3 linked regions of the Homo sapiens genome follow. The protein of the gene in region 2 purifies or fractionates together with the protein of the main gene of each other region. This does not show direct contact. Each region holds a gene or a part of one and is shown on either strand. Other genes may lie near its edges.

Region 1 (3,652 bases), on a different chromosome or scaffold from region 2:
CCTGGGATTCTAAAAGGCTGCATCTCCCACCTCCTGAGCCCAGAGCCCTTGGTTGAGCAAGGGTCTAACCAAAGCTGTTGTAGAGGGAGAGGACATGGGGGCATCAGCAAGCCCAAACTGAATAGTGACCATGACCTGCCCAGTCCCAGCTGCCACCCAAGGACACTCAGGCCCACCACTGCAAAGGCCTCCTGAGCCACAAGTCCTCTAGGGAGGTAGGTGGGTAGAGGACAGCAAACAAGACTGATTCTTCCAGGAGGACCATGCTGTCGGAAGTTAGGGACAAGCCAGCACAGAAAACACTGAGGGCCTAGTCCTGCGAGTGGTGGTCAGCAGTGTACAGAAGCGGGGGAGAGGCGGGGGACACTCCAGGCTGGGTCCCTGAGACACATCAGGCCCAGGGTGACTGGTCCTGGGCTGGGCTACCCTGCCCTCCTACTCCCCACCATCCTTCCCAGATAAACGTACAAATAAACTCTACCTCAACTGCAACATCTAACTTCAAGGTATTAAGGACAACTCTCACATAGGGGCCTCATACTGAGCTCACGCGGAGTCTTCCTTTATCCACATCATCTCCTGTTCCTAACCAGGTGAGCTGTGAGCTCCATTTACAAGTGAGGCCAGCACCTTGTCCTGCTAGTAAGTGGCTGAGATGGGACTGAATCCATGAGGTCTGATCCCCAGGCGCATGCTGAGCTGCCTTTTTACCCTCCATCAGCTCCTGGCTGCTGAAAGTGTTTTCCCACCACTGTTTCCTATAATCCTCACGAGTCCCAGGTGGCAGAGCCTGCTCTCATCCCCTTGGAGGGGAGCACAGCAGGTGATGCGTTAACCTGCTCTGGGTCTTACAGCTCGCCTGTGGCTGAGTCCTAATGTGGGAACACATTGGGGGCTCAGGGTTCAGAGCACGCTCCCCTGTGTTCCCTGACTGACTCCCCACAGCAAAGGATAGGGAGGGAGTCTGTGTCAGTAGAGAGAAAGCCCCACTGCCCAGCCCATCTGCACCTAACTCCAGCTGCCCCCAACCCCAGTCCATTCCTGCTGAGCCCTGGGATGCCACCATCTTACTGCAGCCCTGCAGAGACTAGTGAGCATCTGCTCTCTAAGGTGGGTGTGAACACCCAGATCTCTCAGCTGACCAGGATGGCCCTCCTGCCTTGGACTTGATCTTAGCCGGGAGCTTCTCTCTACCCCAGTGCCCACCACCAGCAGGACCAGGATGGCAGGAAGGCTCATTGAGGCTGCCTGCCGCCCAGCTTCAAAGATGCCGGTAAAGTGCCCTCCAGAGGCTGAGGTTCCAAGGGACACTGGTGGTGCAAGCAGCACAAACGCAGGAACAAGGATGGCTAAGACTGCTAAGCGCTCACAGTAGCGGGAGGGGGTTCCACAGGGTCCACAGGGACCTCAACGAGTCCCTAGAGCAGCCCTTTGTTATAGGCATATATCATGGCTGCTTCCCTTTTGCAGAGGAGGAAACTGAAGCTCAGAGGTTAAGTGACCTGCCCAAGATGTCAGTGACTGTATTTGATTCAGGAGACCGTGCTCTTGACCTTCTGACTTCTCCGTCTCTGCGCAGCAGAGTACAAACAGCTCAGCAACCCACAGCTGCCACCCTCACTGCCTTCCAGAGTCTGCGTGTCAAGGGTGCGACACCTGTAATCCCAGCACTTTGGGAGGCCGGGGCTGGAGGATTTCTTGAGCCCAAGAGATCGAGACCAGCCTGGGGAACGTAGGGGGACTCATCTCTACAAAAAATTTAAAAATTAGCCAGTTGTAGTGGCACATGCCTGAGGTCCTAGCTATGCAGGAGGCTGAGGTGAGAGGATAGCTTGAGTCAGGGAGGTCAAGGCTGCAGTGAGCCATGATCGTGCCACTGCACGCCAGCCTTGGCGACAGAGTAAGACCTTATCTCAAAAAAAAAAAAAAAAAAAAAAAAAAAAGAGAGAGTGTGACAAAGGCTGACTGACAGAATCCTGACTCCTGATTCTAGCCTACGTCTTCCTCAGCTCAGCCCAGCCCAGCGCAACCCAGCTTTGTCCTGACATCGGTGGGTGGAGTGGGGGGGAGGTGCTAAAAGTGCACCCACCCATTTTCTTTTGCAATCCTGTAAGCGAATTCCATTTCTCTTCATTTCCTGCAAAGAAGGTACTTCCGAGCCAGCATCTCCCACAGTATTAAAAGCAGAAGTTGTTGATGGGTTCAAATCCTAGCTCCTCTCCTCATAGACCAGGGACCTTGGGAAAGACATACCTCCCAGAGGAGATAAACTGGAACTGGCTTTTTACATAAATGTCCTTAATTTAAAATGTTGGCAACTGAGTCAGAATTTTTACAACACTTTGAAAGGGCCAAACTAAACACATCTGTGGGCCAGAATCAGCTGGTGAGAATAAATAAGAACAGTGTAAAGCCCTCAGCACAGTGGCTAGAGATCCATATGGGTGCCAGATAGTAATACCATGGCAGCCTTGGACCAGGTCGGAAAGTCCTGGAGGAGGGGCTCCTAAAAAAGAGGCAGTGACCCTATACAGTAAGGAAGGTGCCCTCGAAAGGACTCCTTGACTGCCCAGAGACCAACAGGTGACAGCATGCAGACCTACACCCCGCACCAAGCCAATTCCCCATCTAACCCTGTCCTCCACAAAACACCCCAGAGTGCCTAGGGATTATTCTGGGTCAGGGCTGTCCCATGGGAGGCTATTATTAAGGGAGCAGATTTTGTGGTGGCTTAATTGTTATAACAACTAGGCTTGAGAAGGAAGCCACTGTTTTGTGAGTGCAGCTTCTTTCCTTTAAACCAAGTCTTCCAAAGGCCTCCTTGCTCCAGCGAGCTCCCACTGTCACAGTGGCTAATGAGGCCTGGGACCGCACTATGTCAGCTTTTTGCCCCATGGATCACCCTCCTCGCAACCTCAGCAAGAGGGACAGGGAGGACTCCTTTCCCAAAGCTGAAATCCAGGACTGCAAACACACTTGGGGGGTGGAGGTGCTTAGATGTGATCTTGGCCTCTGGTTTTTCCTTTCCACTGGCTTCCCCCATCTCCCCCAAAGCAAGGTCTGCTGTGGGAGAAGATTTCAGTGTCACAAGGCACTTGCTTTCGAGGACAGAAAGTGCTCCCGAAATCCTACCTATAAAGGAGACTTTAGGAAAGAAAAGATCTCATTTTCCTGCCATTTGCACTAGTCTATTGGCACCTCTCATGCAACCCCCAGCATGGAGACACAGGTAGGAAGCTCTCCTTCAAAGTGTGGGTGTCGTAGAGTCCCCTCAATGAAGCAAAAGCCCACAGCCTCTCTGTATCCTCGGCCCCACCAAGTCCACTAGGCTTTGCCTCCAGAACACACCCACTTTCTTCCTACTATCACCACACTGGTCCAAGCCAATCTCATCTCTTGCCTGAACCACTTGTTCATCTCCCAGCTTCCAGTATCAATTCACCCATGTCCAGGCTCCACACAGCTGCCAGAGTGATGTTTAAAAAGCATAAATCAGTCGGGGTGCGGTGACTCACACCTGTAATCCCAGCACTTATGGAGGCCAAAGCAGGTGGCTCACTTGAGCTTAGGAGTTCAAGATCAGTCTGGGCAACATGGCAAATCCCCGACTCTATGAAAAATACAAAAGTTAGCTGGGCATGGTGGCGTGTGC
Region 2 (3,542 bases):
GTCCGGTCTGAAGCAGCGCTGCTACTGCTACTGCTGCTGGACTCAGAGTCTGAGCTGCTCCGGGGAAGGCTGCAGTCATTACGGTATACCAAGAAACTCTTCTTCACTGGTTGGTTTCCACCGCTGAAGCCATTGGCTGGTAAGTCTTGGTTGAAGGGAAGGGGAGGAGGGAAGGAACCGGTCAGGAAGATGTAGATCAGAGATGACATGGAGGTAAGAGGGACTTGGAGCTTGGGTTCCCCTTCTGTGCTGGAAAATTCCTCCAACCTTGGCCAGCAGAGCTAGCTCTGGGCAGTGTCTACCACAGTTGGCCACAGCCCTGCTCCACCCCTTGCTTCCCTCGGCAGTTACTGGCTTTAGGACACAAATGGCTTAAAGGGCAGGAGATCCCCAAGGAAGGTGAGAAGAGAAAAGGTAAAGTGATACAATGGAGGCAGGGGGCCCTGGATGGGACTTTAGCTGGGTCGTAGTGTCTCTGGGCCTCAGTTTTCCCAACTGTAAGATGAGTGAGTGGAGTTAAAGGATTCCTAAGGACCCTTCTAGCTCGCTCTTTTATGGGCAAATAAAGGGGTAACTGGGAGTATGCTGGGAAGAATGGCAGCTTTGCTCACTCTCTTGGGGGGCTGGGTGATGGTAAGGCTCACCCATTGGGGGGTCTTCTGTGGACTTATCACTGTCGCTGTCTGAGCTCGAACTGGGCCGGGGGCTCCTACCCCGCTTGCGCTGACGCAGGGAACTCATGATGGGGAGCTGGGGGGGCCCCACAGGACTGCCTCCGTGGCTGGGGGTCATCTGGCTCTCCCGGTTTTTGGGGGGCCGGCCCGGCCTCTTGGGCGGTCCAGCTGTCTTCGGGTTCTTTTTGGAGAACAGAACTGAGGTTCTCCTGCCCACCTCATGTGCGGGGGTTGAGGACATGTTGGGACCCAGGCCTGGAGCAGAGAAAGAAAGAAGGAGAGTTGGTGAGGGGCCTGATTTGAGAAGGGTAGATATCCAGGGTCATGCCCTGGGCATATAGGACCATTACTCCAGCTAACGTTGGGGAGATCATTTTAGGGGCTTGGAATTTGGAAGATTAACTCTTATACAAATAGCCAGAGAGGCAGCTAAGAGGCCCCTGATTGGGGAATGAGGGAGAAAGTACAGCTAGCTGTGTAGGAGGGACCTCTGCCTGGGGAATGGCAGGGGTTGAGTGTGTGCTGCAGAGCCAAAGTCTGACTTGCTTTGGGGTCCACCTTGCCATGGGATTCAGACCTTTGCTTGTCTCCTGGCTGCTGCTCTCCTCTGCCGCACTATCTGTCTGCCCATCCTTGTCACAGGCTGCCGGGTGGGGTGTCAGACTACCCCGGCTCGAGGGGCCATGCCGCTCAGGGCCATCACGTCCCGTCTCTCGCTGATGGGCAAGCTTCCGCCGCAGTGCCGTCATCTCTTTCTTGATCATCTTTGCACGCCGTGAGCGGCCCACACTCTGCTTGCTGGCATTCACTTCGTCCAGCCGCTCCAGAAGCAGCTTTAGCTGTTCTTCCACTGGCAGGTGCTTCTGGTTCTCCAGCAAGACCAGCCGCTCTTCCTCGGCTGCTAGGGGTAGGGTTGGAGGGGAAAGGTCAGACTCAGGGCAGCCCTCAGGGCCCCTTGAACCTGGGCAGGCAGCAAGAAACCCACTCATCCCCCCTGGGCTTCTCACCAGGAACAGCTGTAAAATAGCAGCACCAAGATGTGGAATGGCGGGCACTGCTATCCATTCACCCAGTCTGGCTTCTTGGGGAGCATTCCTGGGGATAGCTTGCCACTGCTCAGCCTAGCTGCTTTCTGCCTACACTGCCTGCTCCCAGGAGGGGACTTTTGGAAAGCTGTCCATCCCCGGCATTGGCCTCTTATATGTGTGTGTGATATATCACCCACCATCTTCAGTGTGGTGTGTGGCCTCATCTCCAGCCAGGCTGTGGGGGATATGCATGCCCGTCTCAAAGTCAATGCCCATTTTTTCTGCCTGGCGCCGGGCCTGGCGGAGCACAGCACCACCCTGCTCACGAAGCCGCACTGCTGCCCGGTAGAAGATGGTGTCCTTGGCGTTATACTTGAGGCAGTTGCTGACGATGAGGTTGAAGTCCTCCTCAAAATCATCAAAATTCAGGTAGCGGTAAGCCTCCAAGTTCTGCTTCATGGTGAAAAAGTCCATGGGCTTTTTGATGTGGTCTAGGTAGTCAGGTACCTGGAAGGGCAGGGCAGGTTTGTTTTAAGTGGAGATATCCTCCTTATTGCCCCGAACCCTGCTCCTAACAAGCCCCCCTGAAACACATCCAGCAACCTCCTCCCACCACAGTTAGAGGCAGGCATATAGCACAGGGGAAAGGAAAGCTGGATTCTGGTCCTGACTTTACCAGTCACAAGCTGTGTGACTTTGGCAAGTCTCTTAACCTCTCTGGGCCTACTTTTCCTCTCCTGGAAAATGATGAAAGTAGAGCCAAATATACTTTCTAGACTATATGAGGCTTTAGTAAGAAAATGGCTTGGGGACTCCTCTGAAAATAAACACCACCTTGCATTCCTACAGCTCTTTTTACTTAACAGTAACTTATAAGGAGGCTGCTGCCTCAGGCCTCTCATTTTATACCTTTTAGAGAGAAGAGTCTGCCAGTCAGGACCTAGGGCTTCAGAGCTGGTTCTTTAGGTGCTGAGCCTTCTAAAGTCTCCGTTCTAGGGTTCAGCACCCCGAAAGTGTCTTCCTGCCCTGGGATTATTCATTTGGCAGACTCAGTCCCTGCCTCTGGGGAAGGAGTGCAGACTGCCTCCCATTCTGGGCCCTTGGGGTGTGACAGGGACAAGACAGAGTCCAGGTGATACATGTGGCTCCAGTTCATCCTGCCCCAGAGCCACCAGCCCCTCTCTTCAAGGTCCCCATCTAGTCCTGGCCCAGACCTGCAGCAGGGGTCCAACTGGGAGAGGAACAGAGAGAAGGTGGAGTGAGGGGAAGGGATTCTTACTTCGTCCAATTCGGTTACCTCAGACAGAGGGACCGGCTCGCTGAAGATGTTGCCTGTGTCCTTCTCTTGGAGCTGCTCCAAGGTTTTGCGAAGGAGGATGAGGAAAGGAGTCAGCTGCATCTCCATGGCAATCTGCTGAACCTTGATCTAACATAGAAAAAGGCCTGATCAGCCAGGCCTCGGCCAGTTCAGTGGCAAAGAGGTCTGAGGATATGGTCCCAGCTGGCCTGGGAACCCGCCTTCTTTCCCACCCTCACAGCTGGGTGTACTCATACAGGTCTACCTTCTATGAGGCTCCACCCAGGGAAACTTGCACCAACAATTCTGGCTTCCCCCTTTCTTGAACTACCAGCACCAGCTACCTATGTCACATAACTGAGGATTCTGTTCATACGCTCCTGTGACATTCTGCTTCCAGCAGAACTAAAAGCACACCGAGCACCAGGAGACCTGACTCCAGCGTCAGCCCTGCTGCTATCTGGCTGGGGTACACACGCTATTCCTTCTCCTGGGTCTTTTTTTTTTTTTTTTTTTTGAGACGGAGTCTCGCTCTGTCGCCCA
Region 3 (2,873 bases), about 180 Mb from region 2:
GGTGTGAGATCCTAGAACTGTGGCCCAACTTTGTGTGGAAAGTAGCAGGGCAGGGAAAGGGGACTCCAAGAAGGACTGGGGTTAAATTTCCACTAAGCCAGTAGGATGGCATCCTCAAATAGAAATTAATTTGTTCTGAGCATAAAGTGACATTTCTTATGCACCTGAATTTATGGTCATGATTCATGTTAGCAAGCTTCTTTGCAATTTATAGCCAGAGGTTTGTTTGCTTCAATACTGAATTTAGAACTTATTTTTCCAAAAGAAAATTTAGATGCCTAGTAATAATCACGAGGAGAGAATTTAGGTCACTTTAATAATAATAAATAGGGGGAGGGTGGGAAGCAGGAGAGCATTCGGAAAAAGAACTAGAGCATGCTGGGCTTAATACCTAGGTGATGGGTTGATAGGTGCAGCAAAGCACCATGGCATGCTTTTACCTATATAACAAACCTGCACACCCTGCACATGTGCCCTGGAACTTAGAAAATAAAATGAAATAAATGATAACAATAGTTTCAATACCATACTTTATTAGTATGCCCAGGTATAGCCCAAGCAGTAACAGAGACTCTAGAATTAGAGTTAAGTCCAGGAAAGAAGGAGATTCTGAGTGGCATAGATTTGTCTCAAGTGATGTAGTGGTGAGTGACAGAATTAACTACTAATAGGCAGCACTGAGTTCTTTCCTCTCCTTTCCATTTGATCTCTCTTCTCAGGCCATCTCTTTTCCCATTCACATTTTGCTGCATCTTCAGTATGAAAGTAGGTTGAAAAGAACTGTAATTTTCACAATTACTGGTCATTTTATTTATGTTTCTAATTCAATGTATTATTCATTTTCCTCTTCAAAGGAATCACATTTTATTTTGGAAATGTATGTGTAAAAAACATGGAAACTTGTGGAAACCCACTCTTGAACTTCCCTGGACATGATTCAGAGACTGATTGAGGAAAGGGCTGATTGTCTGGCTTTAGAGGATGTTTGTGGTGCGGCAATGGGAAGCTGGGAAAATTGGCCTCAGGAAGTGGCAGCACCTCACCTTTTCTTAGAGGAGGGAGTCGGTACACAGATCCAATTTGTCTGCAATGGAAGGGACGGGGTCCTTTACCTGGGCCTCGCCTTCTTAAGTGCCCAGGTGGTGGGCCGTGGCCATGGCAACAGTGACCTTGGTTATGGGGTGGTGGGTCACAAGGTCCATAGTCTTGGAAATCATGGCAGTGGGGATGGTGTCCATGGGGATGGTGTCCATGGGGGTGGTGTCCATGAGGATGGTGTCCATGGGGGTGGTGTCCATGGGGATGCTGTCTATGGGTATCATGTTCATGAGGATGGTGTGCATGGGGATGGTGTCCGTGGGGATGCTGTTCATGGGAATGATGCTTATGGGGATGGAGGTCACTGGAATTATTATTATGAGAATGTCTTTGGGCCCCATTTGTGCCAAAAGTGGCATGTTGACAACTTGAGCAGGACATGGGCAATAGTGGAGGAGGGCCTTGTGGAAGTGGGGGTCCATGTGAGTGATCTCTTTCATCTGGAGGAGGTGGGGGTCCATGTTCGTGTGGCTTGTGGGGATGATGATGATCTCTAGATCCATGGGGCTTGAATGGAGGCTTGGTGGTAGAAGAACGCTCATGCCCACCCCAGTGGAAGGGATGTCCCAAATGAGGCGGTACACCATTGATGTTCTCATGTTCCTGGAAAAGGTCACAGAAAAGTGCCTATCATCATGTAACATAAAAGAAGATGTTAGATACTTGACTTGATTTACACCAATGGCTCCCAGATCATAGATTCCACAAATCAATTTAAAAAGTATTACGAAAAAAGATTCTCAAATTGTTATCTAGCCCAGTTGATATTTAAAATATTAACAATAACTATCATTTACCACCATCATTGTTTCACAAAAGAAACTATTTTTTTTTTCTGAGACTGAGTCTCGCTCTGTCACCCAGTCTGGAGTGCAGTGGTGCGATCTCTGCTCATTGCAACATCCACCTCTCAGGTTCAAGCAATTCTCCTGCCTCAGCCTCCCAAGTAGCTGGGACTACACGCCCAAGCCACCATGCCCACCTAATTTTTTTTTTTCTTTTTTTGAGACATAGTCTTACTCTGTTGCCCAGACTCCTAATTTTTGTATTTTTAGTAGAGACAGGTTTCACCATGTTGAACTCCTTGTTTCAAGTAATCCACCCATCTCAGCTTCCCAAAGTGCTGGGATTACAGGCATGAGCCACCATGCCCAGCCTGGAATGAAATTTTGATTTAAAAAAAAAAGAAAGAGCCAGAAACACAATATCAGAGTAAAGGATTGTCCTTTAGATGGATAAATGTTAGATATAAAAAACTTCATTATCCTTATTTTTTTTTCATTTTTACTACACAGAGTGGTGAAACAATATTATGACCTGGCACCCATCTGTAGACCAACACTGGAAAACTAGTGCCTTATAACTGATATTCTTAACTGAGGCTTGATGGTATCAACATCCCTTACTCCTAAAGGCTGAACACTTGACCTCTTCTCTCTCTTCCTTGTTCAGAGTTTAATTTTTTAAAAAATAGCTACAGAGGCCGGGCACGGTGGCTCATGTCTGTAATCCCAGAACTTTGGGAGGCTGAGGCAGGTGGATCACCTAAGGTCAGGAGTTTGAGACCAACCTGACCAACATGGAGAAACCCCTTCTCTACTAAAAATGCAAAATTAGCCAGGTATGGTGGCGCATGCCTGTAATCCTAGCTACTCAGGAGGCTGAGGCAGGAGAATCGCTTGAACCCAGGAGGCAGAGGTTGTGGTGAGCCGAGATGGCACCATTGTATTCCAGCCTGGGCAATAAGAGCAAAACTCCTTCTCAAAAAAAAAAAA

The links.
Region 1: the proteins of BRPF1 (region 2) and JADE2 purify together in Homo sapiens (affinity purification with mass spectrometry, with the first as the bait; one large-scale study listed by BioGRID). This does not show direct contact.
Region 3: the proteins of BRPF1 (region 2) and HRG purify together in Homo sapiens (affinity purification with mass spectrometry, with the first as the bait; one large-scale study listed by BioGRID). This does not show direct contact.

What each region holds. Positions count from the first base shown.
Region 1 is NC_000005.10:134,532,028-134,535,679, reverse strand, and holds part of JADE2 (E3 ubiquitin-protein ligase Jade-2), read right to left. Parts: exon of another isoform or gene 2,135-3,652; coding exon of another isoform or gene 2,090-2,134; intron 1-2,089. UniProt on the Homo sapiens protein: Scaffold subunit of some HBO1 complexes, which have a histone H4 acetyltransferase activity. Acts as an E3 ubiquitin-protein ligase mediating the ubiquitination and subsequent proteasomal degradation of target protein histone demethylase KDM1A.
Region 2 is NC_000003.12:9,741,611-9,745,152, reverse strand, and holds part of BRPF1 (peregrin), read right to left. Parts: intron 3,129-3,542; coding exon 2,982-3,128; intron 2,802-2,981; exon of another isoform or gene 2,612-2,801; intron 2,210-2,611; coding exon 1,900-2,209; intron 1,576-1,899; coding exon 1,252-1,575; intron 930-1,251; coding exon 645-929; intron 146-644; coding exon 1-145. UniProt on the Homo sapiens protein: Scaffold subunit of various histone acetyltransferase (HAT) complexes, such as the MOZ/MORF and HBO1 complexes, which have a histone H3 acetyltransferase activity.
Region 3 is NC_000003.12:186,675,875-186,678,747, reverse strand, and holds the end of HRG (histidine-rich glycoprotein precursor), read right to left. Parts: intron 1,726-2,873; coding exon of another isoform or gene 1,702-1,725; coding exon 865-1,701; 3' UTR 514-864; downstream 1-513. UniProt on the Homo sapiens protein: Plasma glycoprotein that binds a number of ligands such as heme, heparin, heparan sulfate, thrombospondin, plasminogen, and divalent metal ions. Binds heparin and heparin/glycosaminoglycans in a zinc-dependent manner.